Homo sapiens: one gene and its partners. The protein of the gene in region 2 purifies or fractionates together with the protein of the main gene of each other region. This does not show direct contact. Each region holds a gene or a part of one and is shown on either strand. Other genes may lie near its edges. The genes, in order: HP1BP3, PYHIN1, BAZ2A, PADI3, AGRN, SAFB2 and HSPG2.

What was found.
Region 1: the proteins of PYHIN1 (region 2) and HP1BP3 purify together in Homo sapiens (affinity purification with mass spectrometry, with the first as the bait; 2 studies listed by BioGRID). This does not show direct contact.
Region 3: the proteins of PYHIN1 (region 2) and BAZ2A purify together in Homo sapiens (affinity purification with mass spectrometry; 2 studies listed by BioGRID and IntAct, with this or other methods). This does not show direct contact.
Region 4: the proteins of PYHIN1 (region 2) and PADI3 purify together in Homo sapiens (affinity purification with mass spectrometry; 3 studies listed by BioGRID and IntAct, with this or other methods). This does not show direct contact.
Region 5: the proteins of PYHIN1 (region 2) and AGRN purify together in Homo sapiens (affinity purification with mass spectrometry; 2 studies listed by BioGRID and IntAct, with this or other methods). This does not show direct contact.
Region 6: the proteins of PYHIN1 (region 2) and SAFB2 purify together in Homo sapiens (affinity purification with mass spectrometry; 2 studies listed by BioGRID and IntAct, with this or other methods). This does not show direct contact.
Region 7: the proteins of PYHIN1 (region 2) and HSPG2 purify together in Homo sapiens (affinity purification with mass spectrometry; 2 studies listed by BioGRID and IntAct, with this or other methods). This does not show direct contact.

The regions. Positions count from the first base shown.
Region 1 is NC_000001.11:20,770,308-20,773,807, reverse strand, and holds part of HP1BP3 (heterochromatin protein 1-binding protein 3), read left to right. Parts: intron 1-197; coding exon 198-357; intron 358-2,734; coding exon 2,735-2,878; intron 2,879-3,500. UniProt on the Homo sapiens protein: Component of heterochromatin that maintains heterochromatin integrity during G1/S progression and regulates the duration of G1 phase to critically influence cell proliferative capacity.
Region 2 is NC_000001.11:158,945,052-158,948,551, forward strand, and holds part of PYHIN1 (pyrin and HIN domain-containing protein 1 isoform alpha 1), read left to right. Parts: intron 1-3,500. UniProt on the Homo sapiens protein: Major mediator of the tumor suppressor activity of IFN in breast cancer cells. Promotes ubiquitination and subsequent degradation of MDM2, which leads to p53/TP53 stabilization.
Region 3 is NC_000012.12:56,609,827-56,613,326, forward strand, and holds part of BAZ2A (bromodomain adjacent to zinc finger domain protein 2A), read right to left. Parts: intron 3,408-3,500; coding exon 3,189-3,407; intron 2,421-3,188; coding exon 1,947-2,420; intron 1,808-1,946; coding exon 1,747-1,807; intron 714-1,746; coding exon of another isoform or gene 692-713; coding exon 583-691; intron 390-582; coding exon 288-389; intron 121-287; coding exon 1-120. UniProt on the Homo sapiens protein: Regulatory subunit of the ATP-dependent NoRC-1 and NoRC-5 ISWI chromatin remodeling complexes, which form ordered nucleosome arrays on chromatin and facilitate access to DNA during DNA-templated processes such as DNA replication, transcription, and repair.
Region 4 is NC_000001.11:17,247,923-17,251,897, reverse strand, and holds the start of PADI3 (protein-arginine deiminase type-3), read right to left. Parts: upstream 2,801-3,975; 5' UTR 2,761-2,800; coding exon 2,669-2,760; intron 1-2,668. UniProt on the Homo sapiens protein: Catalyzes the deimination of arginine residues of proteins.
Region 5 is NC_000001.11:1,044,120-1,047,619, reverse strand, and holds part of AGRN (agrin isoform 2 precursor), read right to left. Parts: coding exon 3,363-3,500; intron 3,287-3,362; coding exon 3,181-3,286; intron 2,460-3,180; coding exon 2,343-2,459; intron 2,262-2,342; coding exon 2,097-2,261; intron 1,888-2,096; coding exon 1,744-1,887; intron 1,657-1,743; coding exon 1,532-1,656; intron 1,461-1,531; coding exon 1,355-1,460; intron 1,224-1,354; coding exon 885-1,223; intron 801-884; coding exon 663-800; intron 294-662; coding exon 166-293; intron 48-165; coding exon 1-47. UniProt on the Homo sapiens protein: Isoform 1, isoform 4 and isoform 5: neuron-specific (z+) isoforms that contain C-terminal insertions of 8-19 AA are potent activators of AChR clustering.
Region 6 is NC_000019.10:5,612,777-5,616,276, forward strand, and holds part of SAFB2 (scaffold attachment factor B2), read right to left. Parts: coding exon 3,356-3,500; intron 752-3,355; coding exon 689-751; intron 1-688. UniProt on the Homo sapiens protein: Binds to scaffold/matrix attachment region (S/MAR) DNA. Can function as an estrogen receptor corepressor and can also inhibit cell proliferation.
Region 7 is NC_000001.11:21,934,511-21,938,483, forward strand, and holds the start of HSPG2 (basement membrane-specific heparan sulfate proteoglycan core protein isoform b precursor), read right to left. Parts: upstream 2,801-3,973; 5' UTR 2,708-2,800; coding exon 2,645-2,707; intron 1-2,644. UniProt on the Homo sapiens protein: Integral component of basement membranes. Component of the glomerular basement membrane (GBM), responsible for the fixed negative electrostatic membrane charge, and which provides a barrier which is both size- and charge-selective.

The DNA of each region.
Region 1 (3,500 bases), about 140 Mb from region 2:
ACCTTTTTAATTCATTTATAGTACCCAGTTTTTAAAGAAGATTTATTTTGTAAAATTTTGCTTATGGTACATGTCATCTTAGCCTGTAAATAAATTAAAGCATTAATTTTTATCCCTCCCTGGTCTTTTCCTCCTTCTGACTTTATACGTCTTTCTAGAGAGCTTATCTTCTATAATAACAATTCTTTGTTTTAAAGTGAGAAAGATCAGTCTAAAGAAAAGGAGAAGAAAGTGAAAAAAACAATTCCTTCCTGGGCTACCCTTTCTGCCAGCCAGCTAGCCAGGGCCCAGAAACAAACACCGATGGCTTCTTCCCCACGTCCCAAGATGGATGCAATCTTAACTGAGGCCATTAAGGCAAGTTTTTATTTCAAGCAATTCATCTTAGATTTATTATGTTCATTTTTTTCTTATTTGAAAATGGCATATATCTGTCTAGACATCATAAATCTTGTTCTGCTTCCTAAAGGAGTTTTAAAGAGAGGAAAGTCATTATAAGTTCATGTTTTTCTAATATAATCACATTTGGTGAACACTGTTAATTTTTTTAAAAAAATTATATTTAATATAGCAAATATTTTAACTTTAGAATTTTTAAATGCAGTTTATCGATTAAGTACAGTTTTTATTTGAAGGCTGAAAATGTTAATTCATTGAACAAACATTTAAGGACTACCTTCCTCTGTTGGGCGCCCCTGCTAGTGGTGAATTAACTAAGGCTAGCAAAGTCCTTGCCCTTATAAATCTAATTGTGACTCAGTAACTGAAAAATATTGAGAATTTTTGTTTAAAAAATATCTCTAGGTTCATTTCTAAAGCTAAGTGATCTTGGTAGTGGTTATCTTTCACACCTGAACCCTGTTAATAAACACTGCTTTATTACCTAGACATTCCAAAATGCTTACAAAAATTATCCTCCTTACATAGATTTATGATTTCATTGACTTTCATTAGATGTAGTTTTCCTATTTTAATTTTTAAAGGTTATCTTCTAATTTGACATTGCCTTTATTGTATAAGTCTTTTCATTTAATTTTGCCTTGTTTAGTTCATATGATCAGATGATAAGAGGAGTTAGAACAGACCCATCTTTCAGGGACCCTGTTGTTAGGATCTGAGGCAGGACTGGGGAGACAGGGATACAGATGATTTTAACCAGAAAAGGGGGGATGTGTACGAAAAGGAGCAGCCTGGTTGTCATTCTCAGAATATGAGAAGATAGCACTAACACATAAACTGGAAAAAGGGTTTGCCTTCAGACTTCTCCCTTTACTCCTTCAAGACTTCTTATGCTCTCACCTCATTAAGAAAACTTTATTGGTCTAGATTACCTCACTGTAGTGAAATCTCTGTTCTTTGTATAGCCTTTCTTCAAGGATTTCACTTGATGACCACTCAGCCTGGGTTTGAAGGAGCAGCATCATAGTGAGGATGGAAAAAGGGCTGAAACTTTAAAATAGTGAAATAAAAAATTAAAACAATATCAATTTGGCTTAAAGAATGGTTTGAATATAATTGTGCATATTTATGGAGATGATTGATTTTATATAGATAATGTGTATTCCATGCAATATGACAAATTATTGTTTCAGACCATGGATACCATTTTCTGTATTGAACAGGAATCATGATGTCTACTACCATCTCACTGTCGGATTGGTGGAGCAAAAGATTATTTGTTTCAGCATTAGTGTTCTTTTCTGCTTGATTTTCTTTGCTCTGTGTTTTCTTTTAAGATCAGGAGTAAACCTCAGTAGGTCATTAATAGTTCAGAGACATAGACTTGAATTACATGACCCATATTAATACAACTTGTTTCGTGTTGTGCAATCTTTTCTGGACCATCTACCTGTGAGTTATTTTTCTTTGTTGTCAAAATGTATAAAAACATTCAACGAAGTTCTTATCCAATGAGAATGAATAAGTGCTACATTGATTTAATAGACACTGTGGCAGTACAAAATTGATGGACTAGCTCATTAGATAAATGACAGATGCTACTTTTGTGTGTTTCAAAATTTAAAGTATTTGATTTCAAGTCAGTGACCAGTTGGAAAACAAAATTTTAAGCATTTGAAAAAAATTAAGTATTTGCTGCCTTTGTGACATAATGAGCTACTTAATTCTTCCAGGTGCATTAGTCAAATGGAGTATAAGTAAAATAGGATGGAAATGGAAGAGGGCACATTAAATTCAAATAGAACACCTTCACTATTACCCAAAACTCTCCTTCAGCACTTTGCCATCTGTAAACCCATTTTTATGCCACTTATTCAGATTATCTTTGATTCTTCTTTCTGCTGACATTCATACAGAGCCTTCAGGGAAATGTCCTGGCATGCTCATTCCTTAAGCTCGTGCCTTAAAATGGGACAGATCTGTGATCCTGTAAGTGATAGGTTTGTTCTGCTTTTCTCATTTTGATGCCAAAGATTCATCTTCTAAATACAGAATGGAATTAAAATGGAAAGAGGTTCTTCATTATACATAGAATGTTGTTCGTGTTCAGTATGGTCTCTTAGGCTGTTTTGAACAATTTAAAATTGTAGTAGAAATATTTAGTAATTCTGTTACTTCTCTGTAGTCATTATGAACTGAAGTCTTCTGAAGTTCATTCTTCCCTACCGTTTTTGTCATCTATCATCAAATTCACTTCCAAAATAATTTATTTTGAAAATATATGTCAGGCTCTATCTAATAAAAAAAAACAACTAGTTTAATAAATCTTTTCTAGGCATGCTTCCAGAAGAGTGGTGCATCAGTGGTTGCTATTCGAAAATACATCATCCATAAGTATCCTTCTCTGGAGCTGGAGAGAAGGGGTTATCTCCTTAAACAAGCACTGAAAAGAGAATTAAATAGAGGAGTCATCAAACAGGTATTACACAATTGTTAGTAGTAAGATCATTTCATTGTGTATTAGCTTTAAGTCTACAGTTAGTAACATTTAGGCTTTTTGTGCCTTTTTTGTTAAAAATAAGTTTCATGATGATGAAATTCCTTAAGTTTAACCTAGTTGAATTATCTGAGGCTAGGTTTCGAAAATGCTGGTGCCATTAAGATAGTGTAACTTTTTTCTAGCTTACTTTGCTCTTAATTGGATATTTTTTGGGGGGCTGCTTGTGCTTGAAATCATGTAGCACTGAACATGAAAAAGAGGTAAGGAATCCTACTACTGAAACAGCAAAAATGAGGCTAGGGATGGTGGCCTACACCTGTAGTCCCAGCACCTTGGGAGGCTTAGTTGGGAGGATCACTTGAGCCCAGGAGTTCGAGACCAGCCTGGGCAACATAGCAAGACCCCTTCTCTACAAAAAATACAAAATCAGCAGGGTTTGGTGACACATGCCTCTAGTCCCAGGTACTTGGAAGGCAGAGGCAGGAGGACCGCTTGAGCCTGGGAGGTTGAGGCTATTGTGAGTTACGATCTCACCACTCCAGCCTCGGTGAGAGTGAGACCCTGTCTGAAAACAAAAAGGAATAACAGAAATAATAATTGC
Region 2 (3,500 bases):
CCTGGGTCCCATGACTCTTATCTCCCAAATATAAATTACAAGGATCATTAGATTGTTGAAAGAGTTTCTCTTCTAATCCCTAACTGTGTACAATCTCTAGATAAAATTAAATCACCCATGTATTTATTGAATGCATACAGTGAGATACTACCACATGATAGTCTTTGCTATCTAAAAGATATTTATTTGTGCAACGATTGCTGACCACAAGAGGGCTAGTATCTTGTCTTGCTCCACCTATGGGAGGGGTAATGGCCAGAGAAGTAGAGATGAAGACAAAGAGTGTGTTATGACCCACATTCCAATTTCTTTCACAACTTTCCCCTTTGCTTATTGGTATTATTTCTGAATTTATTTTCAGCATTCCAAGTTGAAATAAATATTCGAAGTATATATTTGGAAACATGCTATTTCATTGTTGGGAATCTATTTCTCCCATCTCATCACTGGCAAGAATTTCCTTAAATTTCAGACACCAACTTAAGTATTTTCCTCTGGCAAGTCCTCAATGATACAAGATAGCAGAACTGTTGAGTCCTCCTATTGTTTGCTTTTACAGGGCCTCCTGTCAATGAGAGTAAAGTACTAATTTCACAGAAGTGAACAGAGAGGCTTATCATATAAGATGTTTTCCATACTTCCTTGATCTGGGGTTTCCCTTAATAGGGTCAGTGTAGCACATGATATATTTGTAGAAAAGAAAAAAACTACAAGTCCCAGCATAGAACATGTAACGACAATGTTCTGTGTTTGAGCATTTAACTAGGTGTTTGGTCTTACATGTTGTTCCTGATGTACATTATCTCATTCCTTCTTCATAACCATCAAGAGGATGCTACTTTCTGTCCCAATTGACATAGAAGAAAATAGACACACTCAAACATAAAAAAAAAGTCTTCCTCAAGTTCTCAAAGACAGTGTTAGAGTCAGGATTCATATCCAGCCCTATTGAAATGTAAAACTTGAACAATTTATGATTATATGGGGCTTTAGATTAAAAGTTGAGATATACTAATGTCAGCAATTTATTTTACAAATTTCAGAATTGACAGTGTCATTTAATGAATATGTTTGCATAGCCCAGGCTCTGCAGGGCTTCTCAAAAATAATGAGGTACCCAGAATGAACAAAGTGTACTGTCATACAGAAGCCACTCTCCAGAATTAGAGTCCTCTCATTCTTCTCTATAACAGAGTGCTTTTTATATATTACATAACTGAATTCTAGAAGTGGTAGAACTATGGAAAGTAACCTATTAATGAATGGTAAAAAAAATCAGTGAAAATAGAGAAAATTATATGATTGAGGAGACCTATGTCCTTGCTTTTGGAAAAAAATGTTAAAAAACATTTACTGCAAATGCTCAAGTAGATTGTTAAGTATTTCTAAATATGATTAACAGCCCTGAGGATTCTGGCTAACTTATGCAGACTACAAAACAGCAGAATTCTGCATCTGGAATTGTGGATTTGAAAGAATCCTTCTAGCACAGTGATTAGATAGATAGATAGATAGATAGATAGATAGATAGATAGATAGATGAAACATAAAGCTGGATTTCCTACAATCTAAAGAACAGACAACAGGTACCCATTTGTGTATTTCCTTGACTAGAAAGACTTAGTTAATAAACACCCATCAGACATTTTCAGAGTGAAGTTTGTAATTCCGGTTTCTGTGTATGCAGAAGAGGAGATTTAGGGAATTTACATTTATACAGATATTCCAGAGAACATTCACAAAGAGAGGGTCCTGTTAAAATGGATAAAATATTTATTATGTTGTGACTCATATTGAAAATTATTGACCAGAAAAAAATAATCTATTTTCCTCCCAACAATTAAGGACACAAACACTGAAACTCCTGACCTCAATCTCCTAATTCAGCCCCAGAGCAGAGTGAGCCTCAGCAAACTGCAGTGAAGAACTCATTTCCATATGGGTTCCAGCATCAGGTTTCTCAGTTATGCCCAAAAACCACATCATGCAGTTTCTTACACAAGATACTATCTTGTATTTCCCATTCCTGTGCTTCACAACATCATAATTACTAGGGTGATTGGATCATGACAGGTAACTCATTGATCCCAACTGAATACAATCTTTTTAATAAAATTTATTATCATTAGTTAAGTATATTCTTTGAGACCTTATTAGATTTTGTCTTTTGGTGTTTACAAAGTATATGTTCATGAAATCATTCCTGACTCAAGAGGATTACTGTCTTTTGTTGGTCCAGGTGTAGAGAGAGATTGTGGGGATATAGCCAGATAAAGGAAGATGAATACAAGAATGTGTTCATTACCTATATTCCAGTTACCTTTCATCCTTTCACTTTGTTTATGGCCATACCTCAGGTTTTATTTTAAACTATCCATGGTCTTTTCCAAATCAGAAGCTTTGACAAAGATTGCTTCCTTTGCTGGGATCATTTTCTCCAGTCTCTTCTCTAACCCACCTCTCCAGCCTAAATCCCTTCCTAGGACAAGTTCTCACTGGTACCTGTGGGGGTTTGTCCTGCAGACCCTGACCCAACAACAGATGAATAACATACACTGACACAGATATTCTGCCTGTCAGTTCGGCTAAGGGTCCAGACCCATCACAGACACCAAAGAAGGTGCTGTAAAGAGTAGCAGCCACAGCCTCCACTAGCCAGCCCTGCGGGCATTTATTTAGCACAGATTTAATTGACAAAGGCTTTGAGTCAACACACCTGTAGGTAATTAATCTGATCACCAACCCCCAAGTAAAGAGCGATTATGCACCCACAGTTGATCAAAGGTTGGTCTTAAGACCACAGAAGTAAACAAGCTATTTAGATAAACTACCTCCTTTGTACCCACTTTAAGCTATTTACTCAAGGTAAGGATTAGGCTGCTTTCAGCCATAGCCCTATCTTGAGACTTTTACAAAACCTTCCAGCCTTCCAAGAAGATTTGTGTCTATGTCCTAGAACTTCATCTTAAAATTTTTCCACCAGCCTGACTGAACTACAACATGTCCCCCTTTTCTGTTTTCTGCATCAGGTTCTCTTGACTGAAGCATACAGATGTGTGCAGCAACAAGTCTGTTGGGTGGGGCGGTCATTGCTATTATTCTGGCTTTGCATCCTAGAATTAGCAAATAACATAAGATAATCATGAATATAATTAGCAGCATTCTTTTCCAGTCAGAGTGACCCCCAGGAACAGGTGTCAAACCAGTAGAGATAATCTTGCACACCCTTCCATATGGCTGTTTGTTGGGTGTGTGGATCTATAGTGTGAAAGGATTCTAAAATTTTAGTTTTAAGTTGCTTTATGTCTGCTGCCAAATTGTCATGAAAGGTTTCCCAGAGGTGTTGTTTCACCTCATTCCAACCATGTATTGATTGATTCCATGGTAGAGAAATGATACAGATATGTTTATGCCCCCAGTTGCAGTTTCATTGCTGTTGGAATGCCAGTGCGTCTTGTTGCTCCCCCACATATTCTAAGGCAGCCTCGAGGGATTGCAGT
Region 3 (3,500 bases), on a different chromosome or scaffold from region 2:
CACCTTGGGGACTTCCTTAGTCTTAGCCTTCTCAGTGTTTCGAGGTCGACCCCGTTTGCCAGTAATTGCCTGAATCCTCGACGGGATCTCCTCTGCTGAGAGCTGCACCCACTGCAAGCCCTAAGGTAGCAAGGGAGACTGTTACAGTAGTAAGGAATCAGTGCAGGCCACGAGGCCCTCGGAACCATTCAATGCCCCAGAACCTTCAAACCCCACGAGAGGAAGCTGCAGCTTGTCCACCAACTCTTCCTCAGGGACAAAAGCATATTTAACCCTTGGGTCTGCACCTCTGGCGTGTCTCTTTCTTCAAAGAAATCTCCAACAGGCATACGGGGACTGAAGCTGAAGTGCTCTCGGCGGACACTGTGTACCACGTTGCGGCTCAGGTACTAAGAGGAAGAAGTAAAGTAACATTAATAAAGTTGGATCCTACCATGTCTTTGGCCAGCAAAGGCATAAGCAGAACAGGCCCAGAGCAGACAATGCCAGCCTGTTGTCACTGAGCCCAAGAACGGAGTCTTGGGCAGTGGAAAGGAGTCCACTGAGCCCAAGAAAGCAGTCCTTTAAAAAAAGCTACATTACCTTGATCACTTCTGGAAATTGCTTCATCCTCTTCCCACAGGGGCCATAATACCAGGTCTCCCCCTGCCATCGGTGGCTGCCCTTCTTGATGCGCACCTCTCTCCGCCACCTGCCAGAGAAGCACATGGGCCCTGCCGCCAGGTCACACCCCTACCCACTCCCATGCCACCTAAGCGCGAAGCCCTCTGAGCAGATGGCCCTCCCCACATTTGTATCTCTAGAACTGCATGCAGATGCAAAAGCACCAAGAGAGATAAGCTTGGCTAGAAGGCTGACTTGAGCTCCAGCAAATACATCAAGGCCCTTAGGAGAAAAGCACTACACCAAACTGCACAAGCTCAGAGAGATCTCCATCCCTCCTTTACAAAATCAGTGAGATAAGCTGCCAGAAACCCCTCCCTGAGCCATTCAGGGCAGTTACTGGATTTCCAGTAAAGAGGATAAAGACCTAAGGGGAATAAAGACAGAAGACAAAGGGCAGGGAGGCAAGCAGAAAAATAAATTTGCTGCTGATTCCATGAAAAGACTCAATATGCCAGGGTTTAGTTAGGAACTCTGTGTTCTGAGCAGAACACAAAGTTAGTCAGAGTTAGTTCTAAGACTAACTCTAATCTTTCTCTCAAAATTTTAAGCAGTACTCAGACTTGGTGACCACAAGTAGCCTTGAGGGGCAGGGGTGGGGAAGATCCAGGAAGGCAGTTATTTCCACAAGGCCCTGGTGTCAGCTAGTTTGTTCATTTTGGTCATGTACTGTTCCTGCCCTTACCTCTCCTAAGAGCATTAAAACAACAAAACCACCTCAATTCATTAGTACTAAGTCACTCCTCATTCATTACTATCCCTTGTCCACAGAAATAGGACAAGCCAGCTGGTTTGGATGTGAGCCCTAGGGTTTGGAAAAGATAATAGCTGGAGCTCCTTGGGCAAAATTGAGTCACTACAAGATGAAAAAAGAATAGGTGATGGAAGACAGACCTTGAGAGAAGAAGGAAAACCTAGGAATCTCATGCCAAGAAACATTATCACTGCAGATAACTGTCCTGTAATCTACTCTTGTCTGGCCCATTCCTCCCCCACCTCAGAGGAAAAGAGGCATTCCCTTCTTTCTAGAGTTGTGCATTAAACTTGTCAAGGTCAATAAATGTAGCAAACTAGAGCATTTACCCATGTTGGAGGGGAAGACGAACTTCTTCTGGGGTAGCAATACGTCTCCTCATGACATCACCTTGGGAGGAAGGGATACCCAAGTTAAGAGTTCAAGCAAAATATTTAAACAATAGGCCAATAGGGAAAGGCTAACTACAACATGGGACAGAAAAGTTTCTTGGAACCAGACAGGGATAGAATAGAATCTGGATACTCACCACTACCAGAAGCAGTGAGTCCTTCTCCAGTGATCTCTTCCACGTCAGCAGTGGTTTCTAGAAAGCTGCTGACATCCTTATTTGCTGGGGAGGCTGTTGGAAAGGCAGCTGCTGGGGAAGTTACGGGAGAGGCTTTTGGGGATGTCACTGAAGCCGTCAACGGGACTTCTAAGGAGACTGCTGGGAGGACTGCTGAGGAAGCTGGAGAGACCACTGAGAAGACTGCTGGAGAGACAACTGTAGAAGCTGCGGGACAAACTTCTGGAGAGATTTCTGGGGAGGCTGCTGGAGAAACCACTAGGGAGACTGCTGGGGAGGTTGTTGGCGAGACTGCTGGTGAGGTTGCTGGATGTAGCTGAATAGTGGATGACTGATCAGGAGCTGGCTGGGTCAGGGATGGTGGGAAGTCTGAAGATTGAGTTTCCATTTCTTCCTGTTCAGCGTCACTACCATTATTCAGGTCAAAGCTGTTATCTAGAATCCAAAGGGACAGGATAGGCTTTAAAAAAAAAAAAGGCATCACATAAAACAAGAGAATCTACTCAGTCAACCCTGGACCAAGCTAAACAGGGTTACTTCAAGGGGTCTTCCCTAGGGTTGGAAAAAGAAGTAGCTTTTTCTCCCAACCAATCATGAGGATTAAAGGGTAAAGTTGCTACAGATGTCATTGTGTGAAGAAATACCTTTTACCTGGTGCCAATAAAGCTTCTAGCCTCCTTCTCCCTACAAATTCCAAGTCTCACAAGTTCTTCAAAGCAGAGGGCACAGGTCGGAGTATAGCAGCCTATACCTCTTTTAGTTCCACCATACACTATCCCATAGCCCCTCAGCTCCCAGCAAGGTGCTCTTGCTTTCCTACTTTTTTTTTGAGATGGAGTCTTGCTCTGTTGCCCAGGTTGGAGTGCAACGACACAATCTCGGCTCACTGCAACCTCTGCCTCCTGGGGCCAAGCGATTCTCCTGCCTCAGCCTCCCAGGTAGCTGGGATTACAGGCATGTGCCAACACACCTGGCTAATTTTTGTATTTTTAGTAGAGGCGGGGTTTCACCATGTTGGCCAGGTGGTCTCAAACTCCTGATCTCAGGTGATCCACCCGCCTCGGCCTCCCGAAGTGCTGAGATTACAGGCGTGAGCCACTGCGCCCAGCCAGATTTCCCACTCTTAAGGCCCTAACTATGAAACTTATTCTCTCATCTTTTCTCAGGTAAAGGTCTTTCTTTGTCCTACCTACCGTCACTTACCTTGCAGGACAGACTCCCCTAGGACAGGTGGAGAGGTGGGACTGGCAAAGATAGAGGTTGATGTTTGACTATCATCTGCCAGGAGACTGAAGGCAGTAGCATTATTGAGGGAAGGGCAATCAAGGGCAGAAATCACAGGGCTGTCCTCAAGAGGCAGCTTGTCCTCTGCACCCATCAGCTCCGTGTCATCAATACCATATAGTCCTCCACTCACTGGCTCTGTTTACAAGGGTAGAAAAATCAGAGCAGGATAATGAGAAAAAAATCAGAAAGCAAGATTTAAGAAACACTGGTCAGAAAACATCCAATTCT
Region 4 (3,975 bases), about 140 Mb from region 2:
TTCTCCCAATACGGTCCAGAGACTGTTCCCCAGACATCCTGCATATGGCAGGTTTGGGGATGCTTGAGGCTGTCCACAGGCCCAGGACAAAGCCTTAAACTGATGATGATGATAATGGTGACAGTTAACATAACTGAATGTTCACCACAAATCAGTATTAGTTACATGCTTTGCACACACAATCTCATTCAATGCCCCTAACTGCCCTTTGAAGTAAGGCCAAACTGGGTTACATCCTGGCTCTGCCACTCACTGGCCATGTGACCTTGGACAAGTTGTTTAACCTCTCTGTGCCTTTGTTTTCTTATCTATAAAATGACGATGATGACAGTGCCCACTTGAGAATTTTGTGAGAATTAGTTAACATATGGAAAGCGCTTACAGGCACTGCTGGGGAGTGGCATTCAGTGCCATTGCTGATATTATTATCATCCCCAGGCAACAGGTGAGGAAACAGAGACTCAGAGAAGTTAAAGGAGTTTCCCACGGTCAGAGAGCTGGGAAGTTGCAGAGCCAGGACTGAGCCACAACACCTACTGCCCTTTCTCTTGTTGGCCCGCAGGCTGAGGACCCAGGATTGTTACATCATGGCACCTCCAAGCCGGGAGGGACCTCAGAACTAACTCAGTCCTGCTCCCCTTCCCAGAAAGGAGTCCTTTCTGTGGCACCCTTGTAAGAAGGTTGTCCAGCCTCTGCTGGCTTCTCAGAGAGGAGGAGCTGCTTGTTCTCCCCTGTATGTGTCCCCAGAGCCTGTGCTCATCCTTCAAGGCTCTGAATGGTACACACACTAGACCCAAAAGAAATACTTGAAGAATATGTGAATGAACGAACTAGGAGCTCTCCACTCCCACCCCTGGGGGGTTTGGCCACCAGGGCCCAAGAATCCCTCATTTGAAGGTATCAGAGCTTCCATCCCCCACCCTGTGGCTGTCCCACCGATGGCCTTCTCTGCAAACCTCCAGTGTGGCTCAGGTGACTCCAGGAAGCTATGGCCTTTATCTCTTATTGCCCCAATCCATCCTCTATCCTCTAAGGAAGCTCTGCGGGGGAGGAGCCAGGCCCAGGCTTCCTGGGACAGGTCAAACCGGAGACACATCTGCCCAACGGGCACGAGGCAGCAGGGGCAGGTGAGTCACCCCATGGCACGCAGCCCAGTCACCCCATGGCAGGCAGGCAGTGGTGCCAAGTGGCAGATACCCCTCCTTCCTCATTACCTCCTTGGCACAGCCTCCGTGGCTGCCCCTTCCTTCAAGAACCACTGAATCCCCTTCCTCCTCCTACTGCCCACCCACCAATACCAGGATTTATTTCCTGGGCTGGCTCTGCTCCCGACTTGGTTCCCTCCCATGACCAGCTCCTCACCCCCTCTCATCCAATGCCCTGGATCAACCCCATCGCTGCTCCCGACTAAGTTCGCCCTGATTTTTCGAGTCTTAGTCTTGGAGACTCGTTCTCAATGGGTGGGCTATTTTCTTCCCACCCCAGGGCACATTTGGCAATGTCTGGGGACATTTTTGGTTGTCACAACTCGGGAGTGTGCTGCTGGTATCTAGCAAAGAGAGGCCCAGAATGCTGCTCTCCATCCTACAGTGCACAGGGTGGCCCCCATGACAAAGAGGTATCGTGACAGCAGTGCTGAGGTTGAGAAACCTGGCCTGAGGAGAGGGCTGGGAGACTTGAGAGGTGAGAGCTGTCCCACAGTTCTGCACCCTCCCCTCCCAGTATCCTGATTACCTCCAAGCCAGGACCCTGGATTCTCCCCAAAAGCCTAAGAAGCCAGCTCCCTGGTGGTCCCCAGAGCCCAGCTCTTAAAACCCTACCCTAACCCTCTTTTCTTCCTAAGAGAGAGAAGATAAGGCCTTACCTCCCTCTACCATGGGCCTCAAAGGCATGACCTGGCACACAGTAGGAGCATAATGCATGGGCATTGAGTGTCTAGAGGAAACCAGGTTGGAAATCTTTATTTTCCAAGTATCAGAGCAGCTAAAACCATAAGACTCCTGAGTAAGACCACAAGCGGGTTTAAACCCTGGCTTTGCCACTTAGTAACTGTGTGACTTGAGCAAATGGCTTGCCCTCTCTGCCTCGGTTTTCTCATTTGTCTGATGAGATGATGCTAATAATAAGCCTAGCTCACAGGGTTGTTGTAAGGGTTAAATTCAAGATTAAAGTTCAAAACTTAACTCAAGAGACTTGTGAAGCTCTTAGAATAGTGCCTGGCACATGGTAAGTGCTATGTATTAACTTATTTTTTAAAAATGATTCATGCTCTGTTTCTAGGCTCATAGGCTCAGGATGGGGCTGGGGATATCTGCCTGTTCCTATTCTTGTGTGCCCCAGACAGATCCTCAGCCCAACCTGCAGCATCCCTTGGACATAGAAAAGTGCCATCTCTTCGCGGCACCAGCCCCCTCCAAGCCCCCGGTCTGGAGCTCAGTCACTGAAGCCTCTTCTACCTGGCTCAGCCTCCCAAACTTCAAATTCCCTGGCTAAGGTCTTCAGGAAACTCAGTAGAGCAAGAGGAGGACCCAAGCTTCCCTGATTGGCTGCTGTTCCGAGGCCAAGGCTGGGGAGTGGGCCCTGAAGAAGCCCTGCCCAGCCTGCAGGGAGGAAGGTCCAAGGGCATCAGCACCAAGGGCCTGCAAACCACTAGGCCTCTGACTCTTACCCATAAATGTCCACGAGGGTCTCCACGCCAGCCACACACACCGCGCTGGTGGGATGCTCCAGGGACACACGCACGATTCTCTGCAGCGACATGCTGGTGTTGGACTTAGCTGTGGCCGCCAACCCCAACACTGCCCCTGAGGCCCCTTAGGATGAGGTTTAAAAGCCCCTGGCCCCACCCCTCCAGCCCAGGGTGCCAATTCATTGGCTCCAGTCATGAAAGCCCAGCCCCTTCCCAGAGCTGAGAGCTCAGGATTGGCTGGAAGGGACCCAGTATTTGTATACGAACCTGTTGTCCCGACCCCGGCACCCAGGAAGTTAATTTCTTGGGAAGCAAGTCCCCACAGGTACCTGGCTAGGCACCAGGAACTGTTGGGGGCAGGTGCTGTTGAGGGGGTGCAGAGATATATGATATTGATCTCGGACGCTTCTTGCTTCCTCACCTCCATTTTCTGCATTTTCAGAGACTATAATGGGGAGCTTTCTTACTCTGCTGGGGAAGCTGGTGAAAATGCGGATTCCCAGGTCTGTTGTCCACTCTGATCCAGCAGGTTAGGGGTGCAGCCTGGCCTCTGGATTTTTTTTTTTTTTTTTGAGACGGAGTTTCACTCTTGTTGCCCAGGCTGGAATGCAATGGTGCGATCTCGGCTCACCGCAACCTTCGCCTCCCAGGTTCAAGCAATTCTCCTGCCTCAGCCTCCCGAGTAGCTGGGATTATAGGCGTGTGCCACCACTTCCGGCTAATTTTGTATTTTTAGTAGAGACGGGGTTTTTCCATGTTGGTCAGGCTGGTCTTGAACTCCAGACCTCAGGTGATCCACCTACCTCGGCCTCCCAAAGTGCTGGGATTACAGGCATGAGCCACAGCACCCGGCCCTCTGGATTTTTTAATAAGCACCCCCAAAGCATTTTGGTGCCCTTTGAGAAACACCAACTTTTTTTTTTTAATGGATTTTAGAGCCAGACCTGGGTTTCAGCCCTGCCTCAGCTGCTTCCTGGATGGGCGACCTTGGGCAAGTTTCTTTTTTTTTTTTTTTTTGAGACAGAGTTTCGCTCTGTCACCCAGGCTAGAGTGCAGTGGCGTGATCTCGGCTCACTGCAAGCTCCACTTCCCGGGTTCACGCCATTCTCCTGCCTCAGCCTCCCGAGTAGCTGGGACTACAGGCGCCTGCCACGGCTCCCGGCTAATTTTTTGTATTTTTAATAGAGGCGGGGTTTCACCGTGTTAGTCAGGATGGTCTCGATCTCCTGACCTCTTGATCCACCCGACTTGGCCTCCCAAAGTACTGGGATTACAGGCGTGAGCCA
Region 5 (3,500 bases), about 160 Mb from region 2:
CTCCGAAAATCCTTCTTGACGTCTGAATTCCGGAAGAGGTCGTCCAGCTGTGGCAGGGAGTAGGCAAGGACTTGGGGGGCCGCCCAAGCCGGGCTGCCCTGGTGCTGCTCTGGGTATCTGGGGAGGAAGGCCAGTGGGTAGGTGGGGGCTGCGCCCCCGTCTTACGGTGCTCTCAATGCTCCTGGCTGTCTCCCCGAACAGTTCTGACTTGGGGTCAGCCATCTCGGGCGTGTAGAACAGCTCCTGGCCCTCGACGCCCTCCAGCTCCAGGACGCCCTGGAACACCTTGGTGGCTGTGGGGGAGGTACAGTGAGGCCCTGCCTGGCATCTGCCTGGCATCCAGGCTGGCCCAGGCACAGGCCCCAGCAGCAAGCCACAAGGGTGCAAGGGAAGGTGGATGTTAGTCAGATGGTCATGAGGTTAGTGGGGACCCCAGGGTGGGGCTGGTGTCGGTTACCAGGAGGACTCCTCAGAGCAGTGTGCCACACCGGCTTGCAACGAGAGAGACGGGTTAGGCGTGGGGTCCCCGGCACGCACATGTTTGAGGGGGCCGAGTCCCAAGACCATAACCCCCGGCACTGACCTGCTGCCCAGGCGAGGGGGCAGCACCTCGGCCGAGCCCAGGCTATCCTCACACTCCCCTCGCCCAGCCGTCCACTCACCGGGGCAGTTGGAGCCCTCTGCGTCCAGCGAGGGCGTCTTCCCATCAGAGCAGCAGCCCAACGCGGAGTTGTAGCAGGAAGCCCTCTCGACAGGTGGCCCAGGGGTGGCCACGCTGCTGCCCTCCAAGGGCTCGAGCCCTGGGGAGACGCGCTCTGAGCCCAGGCTCTGGTGGAGCCTCTCGGCGCCTGCCCACCCACCCCAAGTCCTTGATCCCTGCTCACCCCCAGAGCCACCCCCACTGGCCTCCTGGTCCCCGCTCAGTTCCTCATCGCTGCTTCCATCAGTGCTGCCAGATTCACCAAAGGCGGACGCCACCAGGCTGGGTGCAGGGGAGGGTGCCGTGGGGGGCACCGTCAGCACGGGCCACACGGTGGTCCTGGGGACGCTGGCAGTGGTCCGAGGTCGTGATGAGGGCGGAGGGGTGGTCTGGCTGTGTGCGGTACTGCTGGGAGCCAGGGGGAGGGCGCCGGGGGGGGCCGGCAGTGCCTGGCTCAGGAGGAGCCCTGGGGTGGTCACAGTCACGGAGGCAGATGTCGGGTGAGTGCTGGGAGCAACAGCCTCTGCAAGGAGAGGGAGGTTGGCGGGGGGACCGGTTGGGACAGGGTCAGGTGGCTCAGGGCGGGTGGGGCTGGATTTAGGGCAGCGTCAGGCCTTCCTGGTCAGTTCTGGGGCAGTGGCCGTCAGGCCTCACCCTGGCACGGGCCCAGGCTCTGGATAGAGATTTGCAGGCCCTGGCGGCAGGCGATGGTCTTCAGCTGACACTCGTTGCCGTATGTGACTCCATCTGACCCACAGACCTGGGGCAGAGAACAAGGATGTTCAAGGCGAGGCCTCCTCCCCACTCCCCTTCACATCCCACACCCCTCACCTTGGTAGCGTTGGCCTCTGGACAGGTGAGCATCGGGCAGACACAGTGGGCTGAGCCAGACTCCTCCACGCACCGCGCACCGAACTCACAGCGCATCTCCGCACAGGTCGCAGGCGCAGAAGCGTCTGGGGCACGGGCATGGGAAACCTCTGTGGCTCGGGTGACCCCACCCCACCCCATGAAGCCCCAGGGTAGCGCTGGCCCTCACTCACCAGCTTCACAGCCCGCGGGGCCCAGGGCACGGCCGTCTGGACACTGCCCACACTTGGGTCCAGCCACCCCGGGCTTACACGAGCACAGCCCCGTCATCTGCTCACAGTCATCCCGCACGGCGCCTTGGGGATCACAGCTGCAGGCTTTGGGGAAAATCGGGGAGGAACGTGATGTCCGCACCTGGACGGGCTTCCCCACCTCCTCCAGAGCCTGGTCCCCAACCCTGGCTCTGCCCAGCCCCCAGCCAGGTGTGGGTCAGGCCAGGGCCTGGGCAGGTGAGGAGAAGCACAGTGATGGGGGTGAACAGGTAGGAGGGCATAGCCGGTGGCCAGTCCTGGGCCCTGTCACTCACGTGTACAGCCACTCCGGCCATCGGTGACGATGCCTCGAAAGTTCCAGAAGCCAGGCTCACAGCGGTCACACCTGAGGCCCCCCACACCTGGGCGGCAGGAGCACTGGCCTGTGGCTGGGTCACAGGTGCCGCCGTAAGAGCCATGGGGGTTGCACTGGCAGGCACCTGAAAGGCCAGGGCAGGACAAGGTCACGTGGCCGCACAGCCGCACCAGGCCCGGGGTCGGGGCTGAGCTCAGGTACTCACTGGGGCAGCCAGCCAGGCCCACGCCCCGGGCTGCGGTGATATTGTCCTGGCAGCAGCCGTAGGGCGTCTGGGCACAGTGTAAGGGGGCCACAGGCGGCAGCGGGGCGAAGGTGGGGCCTGCAGGAAAGGGTACGGGACTCAGATTTCATGCAGTGCTGGACACCCACCCTGGACCCAGCCAGTCTGCCTCCACCTACCCCCACTGTCACCACTCAGCCGTCCCGATCCCAGCTCCCAGAGGAGCCCGGGAGCCTGGGGCTGAGGACACAGGTGAGGCTCCCACATCTTACGCAAGAACATGTCTGTAAATGCAGATCCAGGAACACACAACACACAGAGCATCCAAAGATCACGGACACGCAGCTCTGTGCACACACACACGCGAGCTTCCTTGCAAATCGAGAAACAGACATCTGAAGACGTCAGCATGCGTTCTCACCCACATTCCTCCAAACCGTACAGTTAACGCCCCTCTGCAGACACACATCTGTGCACGCGCATCACACACACCGGGCACCACTTTTACCTAATTGATGTGATACATCGACCGGATGGACGTATGCAGAGAAAGTGCCCACACGGTGGGGCCCCGCATGGTTCACGCTGCCTCTCAGCACTGAGGCCTGGCCTGGTGCACGCCCACTGACTGATGGACACACACGCCCACACACGCAGCTGCACAAATGTGCACAGGCACCAACACTGGACGATGCTCACTTACAACACAATACACACGTCCACAGGGGCCCAACGCAGCACACGGGCACGCCCACATCCAGACACGGAAACCCAGACGCCGCCCCGCCTGTGCCTGAGACCCCACGTGCAGCCGGCTCACCTCGGCAGGCTCCCTGGGCCGCTACGTAGAGCCCTCGCTGTGACTCACACCTGGCCTTCTTCAGCTCACACTCGGTGCTGTAGGTGACCCCATCTGAGCCGCACACCTGGAGGGTGGTGTCAGTGTGAGCGGCCGCAGCCCCGTCCCCGCCGCCCGCCGAGAGCCAGGGGTACAGAGCTCACCGGGCTGCCTGGGACACTCTGGCAGCTGAAGTCACAGACACACGGCCCGTCCTCCGAGTCCTCGTCCCAGATGCCACCGCGCTGCCGGCACAGCTCCTGCTCACAGTCACCGTCCTCCCCAGAGCCAGAGCCTCCGGA
Region 6 (3,500 bases), on a different chromosome or scaffold from region 2:
TAACAGTCTGTCCCATTCTCCCGAGTTTGGGCCCTGCCCTGCCATGCCACCCACCCCATGACCAAGCTGACCTAGTGGCTGCTGCAGCTGGCAAACACCCCCTTTGTCAGAGAAGAGGTCACAGTGGATTTAAGAAAAAAATACTTCTCCCAACATAAACTGATTTGTAACTGAAACCTGTCATAACAAAATGATCTCTCTACTCTGCTGAAAACCTTTTCCGACATCTGTCTCACTTAGGACAATAGGTCCAATCCTTCTGGTGGCCCAGACTCAGCGAGGCGGGCCCAGCTGCTCTGCAACACCTCTGGCTTCTATCCAACCCTGTGTGCTCCCCTCTCTCTTTTGCATCAGAGACACCACCCAAACTTTCTGCTCCAAATTCTTCTTTCCCTCTTCAACCTATCCGTCAGACCTCTGGGAAGAGTTCCAGGCACTTATGAAGTCCAACCACCAGAACTGCTCCCTCATCACACTTCTTTCTCCCTTCTGGTTACATATTTGGTTTGATCCCACTGCCCCTGCTAGATGGCCAGCCCTGAGACTGTTTCTCTTCTGCTAACCTCTTAACCCCAGCATCCAGCACAGTATCCAGTCATTTCCATACACATACACACTGCTCTTTCATTATGGAAAATCAACCACTCGATTAACATTTCCAGCGATGCAGAACCAGATGGTAACTTACCGGAGTTACTTTGAAGTTCAACGATGAAGTTTCCAAAGTGTTCTTAAATCCTTCCCCATCCACCTGAAAAACAAAATGGAAGATGACTTCGTGGAGGCTGGAGCTATGAAAACCAAGGCTGACACCTCGCTTAGGCAACTTGTGTGTCTATTTCCCTCACGGCACCTTTTGCCATCTGCAAGTCTACTGTTGGGTCATTCAGTTCAGCACCTGCCTCTCCGCCAGAACACACACTCCACGACTCTGCTCCACCAGCGTCTCTGGCAGTGGCCTGCAGGTGGGTATGCCCTGTCTGTACTGGGTGAATGAACGAATGAATTTCCCAGGCAGTTTCTAAGTACTGGTGATTACCACATACCCCTCCAATCACAGGATTTCCAAAGCAGAACTCAAAATGATAAAATGCACCCCTCCAATTTCACCTGGTAGCAATACTCTTAAGGTAACACTAACCGGGCACTTTCTCCTAGCCTACTTTATTCATTCATTCATTCACTCATTCATTTGAGACGGAGTGTCACTCCTTTTGCCCAGGCTGGAGTGCAATGGCGCCATCTCGGCTCATTGCAACCTCCACCTCCTGGGTTCAAGCAATTCTCCTGCCTCAGCCTCCCGAGGAGCTAGGATTACAGGCATGCACCACCACGCCCGGCTAATTTTTTGTATGTTTTAGTAGAGACGGGGTTTCACCATGTCCAGGCTGGTCTTGAACTCCTGACCTCAGGTGATCCGCCCACCTCAGCCTCCCGGAGTGTTGGGATTACAGGTGTGAGCCACCGCGCCTGGCCCGCCTAGCCTACTTTATTAAAAACAAACATCTAACTTGGTCAATTTCTCTCTTTACTACATGCCAAACAAAAGAAAAACTGTTAACACCAAGTTTTACTAAATCTGAAGCTCTTTTTAAGTGAACTACAAAAACAGCACTCCCAAATATTTTCTTTTTTCCTTTTCTCGATTTGAACTCATGACCTGGGATGCCTCCATTAACTGAGAAGTACACACTCTGAAAACAATAAGCACACAGCAGTACCAGACTGAGAAAGGCGGCTAACCAGTTGCTCAGTGCTGCCCTAGGTCAAAGGATGGTAAATTTGGAGGCAATGACTTTTGACCGTAAGGTTTAAGGTTCAGTCCTATGGAGGCATTTCCACCCCCAAGCTGAAAGCTGCAATGCCTTAAGGAAACAAAACAACCTACTGGGCACGTGACATCAGTCAGAGTACAATGAAGATCAGCTCGAAGACACTGACAGCTTGTGATATTTGAACAGCCTCACCAGAGAGCTCTACGCCAAAACACTAGAAGTGAAAAGCTGGGAAAGCCCTAACAGAGCAAAGTTCCTCCTTTACATACAAGGATGCTCACAGTCAGTCCTTTTGGGGAGCAGGGTTGATACTTGTCTTCACTGTACTTTACATCTTTTAATGTAACTGCTTAACCTTGCTTAAAACAACATTAACAGGCTAGGCGTGGTGACTCACCACTATAATCCCAGCACTTTGGGAGGCCGAGGCAGGCAGATCACTTGAGGTCAGGAGTTCGAGACCAGCTCAGCCAACATGATGAAACCCTATCTCTACCAAAAATATAAAAAATTAGTCAAGTGGCTGGGCGCAGTGGCTCAAGCCTGTAATCCCAGCACTTTGGGAGGCCAAGGCGGGCAGATCACGACGTCAGGAGATGGAGACCATCATGGCCAACATGGTGAAACCCCATCTCTACTAAAAATATAAAAAAATCAGCTGGGCGTGGTGGCGCATGCCTCTGGTCCCAGCTCCTCAGGAGGCTGAGGCAGGAGAATTGCTTGAATCAGGGAGGCGGAGGTTGCAGTGAGCCATAATCTTGCCACTGCACTCCAGCCTGGGTGACTGAGAGAGACTCTGTCTCAAAAACAAACAAACAAACAAAACACAACATTAGGAGGAATATCTACATGATGAGATTAGAAACCATTTTTGAGCTGGGCACGGTGGACCACACCTATAATCCCAGCACTCTGGGAGGCTGAGGCGGGAGGATTGCTTGAGCTCAGGGGTTCAAGATCAACCTGGGTAACCTAGTGAGATCCCGCCTCTAAAAAAAAAAAAATTTTTTTTTAATTAGCTGGGCGTGGTGGTTCACTGTGTAGTCTCAGTTATGCAGGGGGATTGCTTGAACCTGGGAGGCTGAGGCTGCAGTGAATTATGATGACCCCACTGCACTCCAGCCTGCACAACAGAGCAAGACCCTGTCTCTAAATAAATAAACCATCTTTGCTTCTTAAAACTGTATTTTAAAAGGAAAAAACTAAATGGGCACTGTGGCCTGTGCCAATAAGCCCAGGTAGTCAGGAGGATCGCTGGAGCCCAAGAGTTCAAGACCGGCCTGGGTAACAGTTGAGACCTCATCTCAGAAAAGAAAAATCTTTTATGTCAGAGCTTTCTATTTTATGACTCACCACATGCTTCGAATTATAAAAACACTCCCCAGTGCTACAGAAAAGCTATCTATGAGTAAATCCCTGAGCTACACAGCGTTTAAATGGACATGGTTTAACACCAGGGTGTAGAAGCAGAACTGTGTGTTCATGGCGGTTTAGCTGTGTTCTCCCTCACACGAGCAGCACGCGAGCACCAGGTGCCTCGGGGCTATGGGCACATCCTGCCGTGTCTCCAAGTTACCTACAGCATGCTCTGGGGGCTGAGCCGGGAGCTGTCTCAGCTGTGCAGCCACGTATTCTTTACTATCACAAAAGGAATCGAGAAGGCCGTCCGTGCCATCCTCCCCAAAATCTGGAGCACTGCTATTCGCCACTTCAGTTTCGTCTAGC
Region 7 (3,973 bases), about 140 Mb from region 2:
GTCATCCCAACACTTTAGGAGACCGAGGCGAGAGGATCGCTTGAGGCCAGGAGTTTGAGACCAGCCTGGGCAACAAAGTGTGATGCCCTCTTTTTTTTTTTTTGAGACAGAGTCTTGCTCTGTCGCCCAGGCTGGAGTGCAGTGGCGCGATCTCGGCTCACTGCAAGCTCCGCCTCCCGGGTTAACGCCATTCTCCTGCCTCAGCCTCCGGAGTAGCTGGGACTACAGGTACGTGCCACCATGCCTGGCTAACTTTTTGCATTTTTAGTAGAGACAGGGTTTCACTATGCTGGCCAGGCTGATCTTGAACTCCTGACCTCATGATCCGCTCGCCTCGGCCTCCCAAAGTCCTGGGATTACTGGCGTGTGCCACCGCGCCTGGCCCCGAAAAACTTTTTATTGTTTGTTTGTTTTGAGGCGGAGTCTCACTCTGTCACCCAGGCTGGAGTGCAATGGTGTGGTCTCAGCTCACTGCAACCTCCGCCTCCTGGGTTCAAGCGATTCTCCTGCCTCAGCCTCCCGAGTAGTTGGGATTACAAGCATGCGCCACCACACCCGTCTAATTTTTGTATTTTCAGTACAGATGGGGTTTCACTATGTTGGCCAGGCTGGTCTCAAACTCCTGACCTCGTGATCCGCCCACCGTGGCCTCCCAAAGTGCTGGGATTACAGGCATGAGCCACCGCGCCTGGCCTGAAAAACTTTTTAAAAAGAATTTTATAAAGAGACTTCAGGGGCCAAGCTCTTTCCAGCCCACCACCAGCAGCCTGGGGTGGGACAGCGACCCTCCATGTGTTGCTGAGAAGGCTCTCTAATCCCACAGGATTGGAGCTGCCTGTTTATTTGTCTAAATTACCGCCCACCAGCCTGTGAGTGCTGGGAAGGCACAGACAGGGCCTGTCCTTGCTGGTCCAACCCACCCCAGCCCCTAGCACCACACGAGGTTCACTGGTTCACTGGCACACAGTAGGTGCATGGCAAATATCTGCCCAAAGAATGAACCTCTGTACTCCCAGTGACTGCCATGGAATGTCGCTCAGTGATGATCTGTTGAATGAACAAGTGAATGAGATGATCTGCCACGGTCCAGGAATGTCTGTGGAAATTCCTCATGCACACAGCAAACAACTCCACCCACCGCCATCCTACCGCACCCGGGCATGGAGGAGCCCCTCATCGGGGGCAGAGCTGGGGGAAGGTCAGGAAAGACTGTTGGGCCTCGGAAAACATCCCACGTGCTAGGTTGGTGCGTTGGGAAAAGTAAAAGTCAGTGCCAGGAGTGCAAGTTCAGGTCAAGACTAGGGAGCTACTGGATGGCCCTGCTGAATATTTTGGGGTGAGAGGCTGAAACAGGAGGACGACAGAGGAGGCTGCCCAGAGTGGGGATGGGGGAGGAGAAGTGCTGGGTGGGTGGGGCAAGAGCAGTGAGGAGCCAGGTCTGGGTGGGGGCTTGACGAGTGACTCAGGAGGGTAGAGGTGCGATGAAGCCAGGAAGGTGAGGCCAGGCAGGCAGTTCCTGGGTAAACACCAGCCTGGTTAGAAAAGTCCCTCTCTTGGCTCAGAGAACAGGGAGGCAGGTATGGGGACTGCCTAGGAGCACCTCGGAGAGAGTGGGGGTGGCTCTGTGGCTCCCCACGGTAGGCTCGGCTCCCCAGATGTGCCCCCACCCACATCTGCCACTAGCTCCCTGCCCACCGACCCCACCCAGTCCTCCTCAAGTTCACTCAGGTCCTCAGGGCCTCTGCTGGCCAAGTGCCTTCTAAGCCTCGGGATTCCTGACCGTAGAATTCCCTTTTCCTCCACCTAAGCTCAGAGTAGGGGACTAGACTGCAAGGGCAGGCCTCTCCCTGCCTCTTGGAGACCTGGGAAGAGGAAAGCTGGGGAACTCGGGTCCCCCAAGGGTGCACTGCATCCCCGCACCACGCACTTTGCAGCTCATTCCACGCAGTCCAGCAACGCCCTGCAGCTATGCATTTTGAGGCCGTGCATTTTGAGTTCCCTTGACCCACGTGGGGCTGGCCTCAGAGAGGTTAACTAGCGTGCCCCAGGTCACACAGTTACTCAGTGAAAGGCAGGGATTGATTCAACTCTTCGGCTGTATGACTCCAAGGCCCGTGGGTGTTCCACACAAGCTTCAGTTCTGTCCCAAAAGTTTTGCTTGTGCCTACCTGGGTCCAAGCTCCCCAAGGTGATAGACGGTGTGGTAAAGTTTCAGCGAGACTCATAGGGTCCCCATCACCACTGAGTGGCCGTTCTGCCAAGCTGGCGCAGAAGGGTTCCCTCGTCCTGCCAAGTTCCCACCCTGCTCAAAGTTTCCCCTCCTGGTCCCCAGGAATGGTAGGCCGGACCATGCCCAGCGAGACTCCAGCACTCGGCAACGTGGCCGAGAGACCCACGGGCTCCCACACGGGCCAGCCCCGCCCCCAGCCCCACGAAGGGTCCTGACTGGTGGCCCCCCTGGATTAGCCCCATGCCGCAGGGTGGCGCCGGCCCGGGGTCCCCGGCGGGCGCCGCCGTCCCGGGCCAGAGTCCCCGCCGCGCAGCCTTGGGCGCCCCAGCCAAGTTGGCGGGAGGCGGCGAGCGGGACCGGGGCGCCCCTAGCCCCTCCGCCCCCGCCCCCCGCCCCTCTGCCCCGCACACTCACCGCCAGCAGCCGCCCGTGCAGCAGCAGCGCCAGCAGCAGCGCGCCCGCCGCCCGCCACCCCATGGCCCGGCCCGCGCCGCTCTCTCGCTCGCTCGCTCCGCGCCGCCCGCTCCGCGCCGCCCGCAGCCGCCCGCTCGCCGGCCAGCTCGGGACAGCGCGGCCCTCTCCCCACCGCCCCCTTTCCTCCCCGCCCGCCCCGCCCCCGCAGCGCCGGCCCCGCCCCCGAACCGCCCCTCCCCGGAGCGCCAGGCCCCGCCCACGGACCGCCCCCGGGCCGCGGGCTCTGCTCGCCCCAGCCGGCCGCGCAGCCTACTAGGCCTTTGTCTGGGCCCCCAGCCCCCTCCGCGCGGGCCGCGGCCCGGCCCGGCTCCCCGCCAAACCCGGCCTGGAGTATGGGATGGGACGGGGCGGGGGACCGGGGGCCCGGGCCCGGGCATGGGATGGGGCCGCCGGGCCAGGCGCTCTCGCCTCCCCGATCCCCGGCTCCCCCGCTTCCCCGCGCGCGCCGCCGACTTCCACGCCCCTGCACGCCCCGCACGGCCGACTCCACTCGCGCAGCTTTTGAAGATCCCGGGATCTCCTTCCCACGCTCACACGCACGCAGCTGCCGCTCCGCGCCACACGTGCACGCCAACTTCCACACCCAAGAACACCTTCACACCATAACTTTACTGCACGAACACACTTGTGCGCTACCCGGGAACACTTTCACACTCTGGACCCAACTCTGAAGTACCAACAATCCTCACCGGCTCACATGCACACTTAACTCGCTTCCAAACTCTCACCTCCACCAGGGACACAGGAGACAGCCCTCACACCACACTCAGCCCCTCACTCACGCATACATCCCAACAAGTCACGGAGCGGGAGGACGCCTTTTCACATAGATTCCTCGCAGGCACGCACATTTCACACACAGGCCCACATCATTGCCTACATGCTTACCAGCTTGTTTTTTTTTTTTTTTTTTTTTTTGAGAAGGAGTCTCGCTCTGTCCCCAGGCTGGAGTGCGGTGGTGGGATCTTGGCTCACTGCAACCTCCGCCTCCGGGTTCAAGCAATTCTCCGGCCTCAGCCTCCTGAATAGCTGGGATTACAGGCGTGCCACCACGCCTGGCTAATTTTTGTATTTTTAATAGAGATGGGGTTTTTACCATGTTGGCCAGGCTGGTCTCGAACTCCTGACCTTGTGATCTGCCCGCCTTGCCCTCCCAAAGTGATGGGATTACAGGCATTGAGCCACCGCACCCAGCCTCAGCCTGTATCTTTTACCTGTTCTCACCCACTAATCACAGTGCCTCATAGTGGGCACTGGGTACTGAACTGA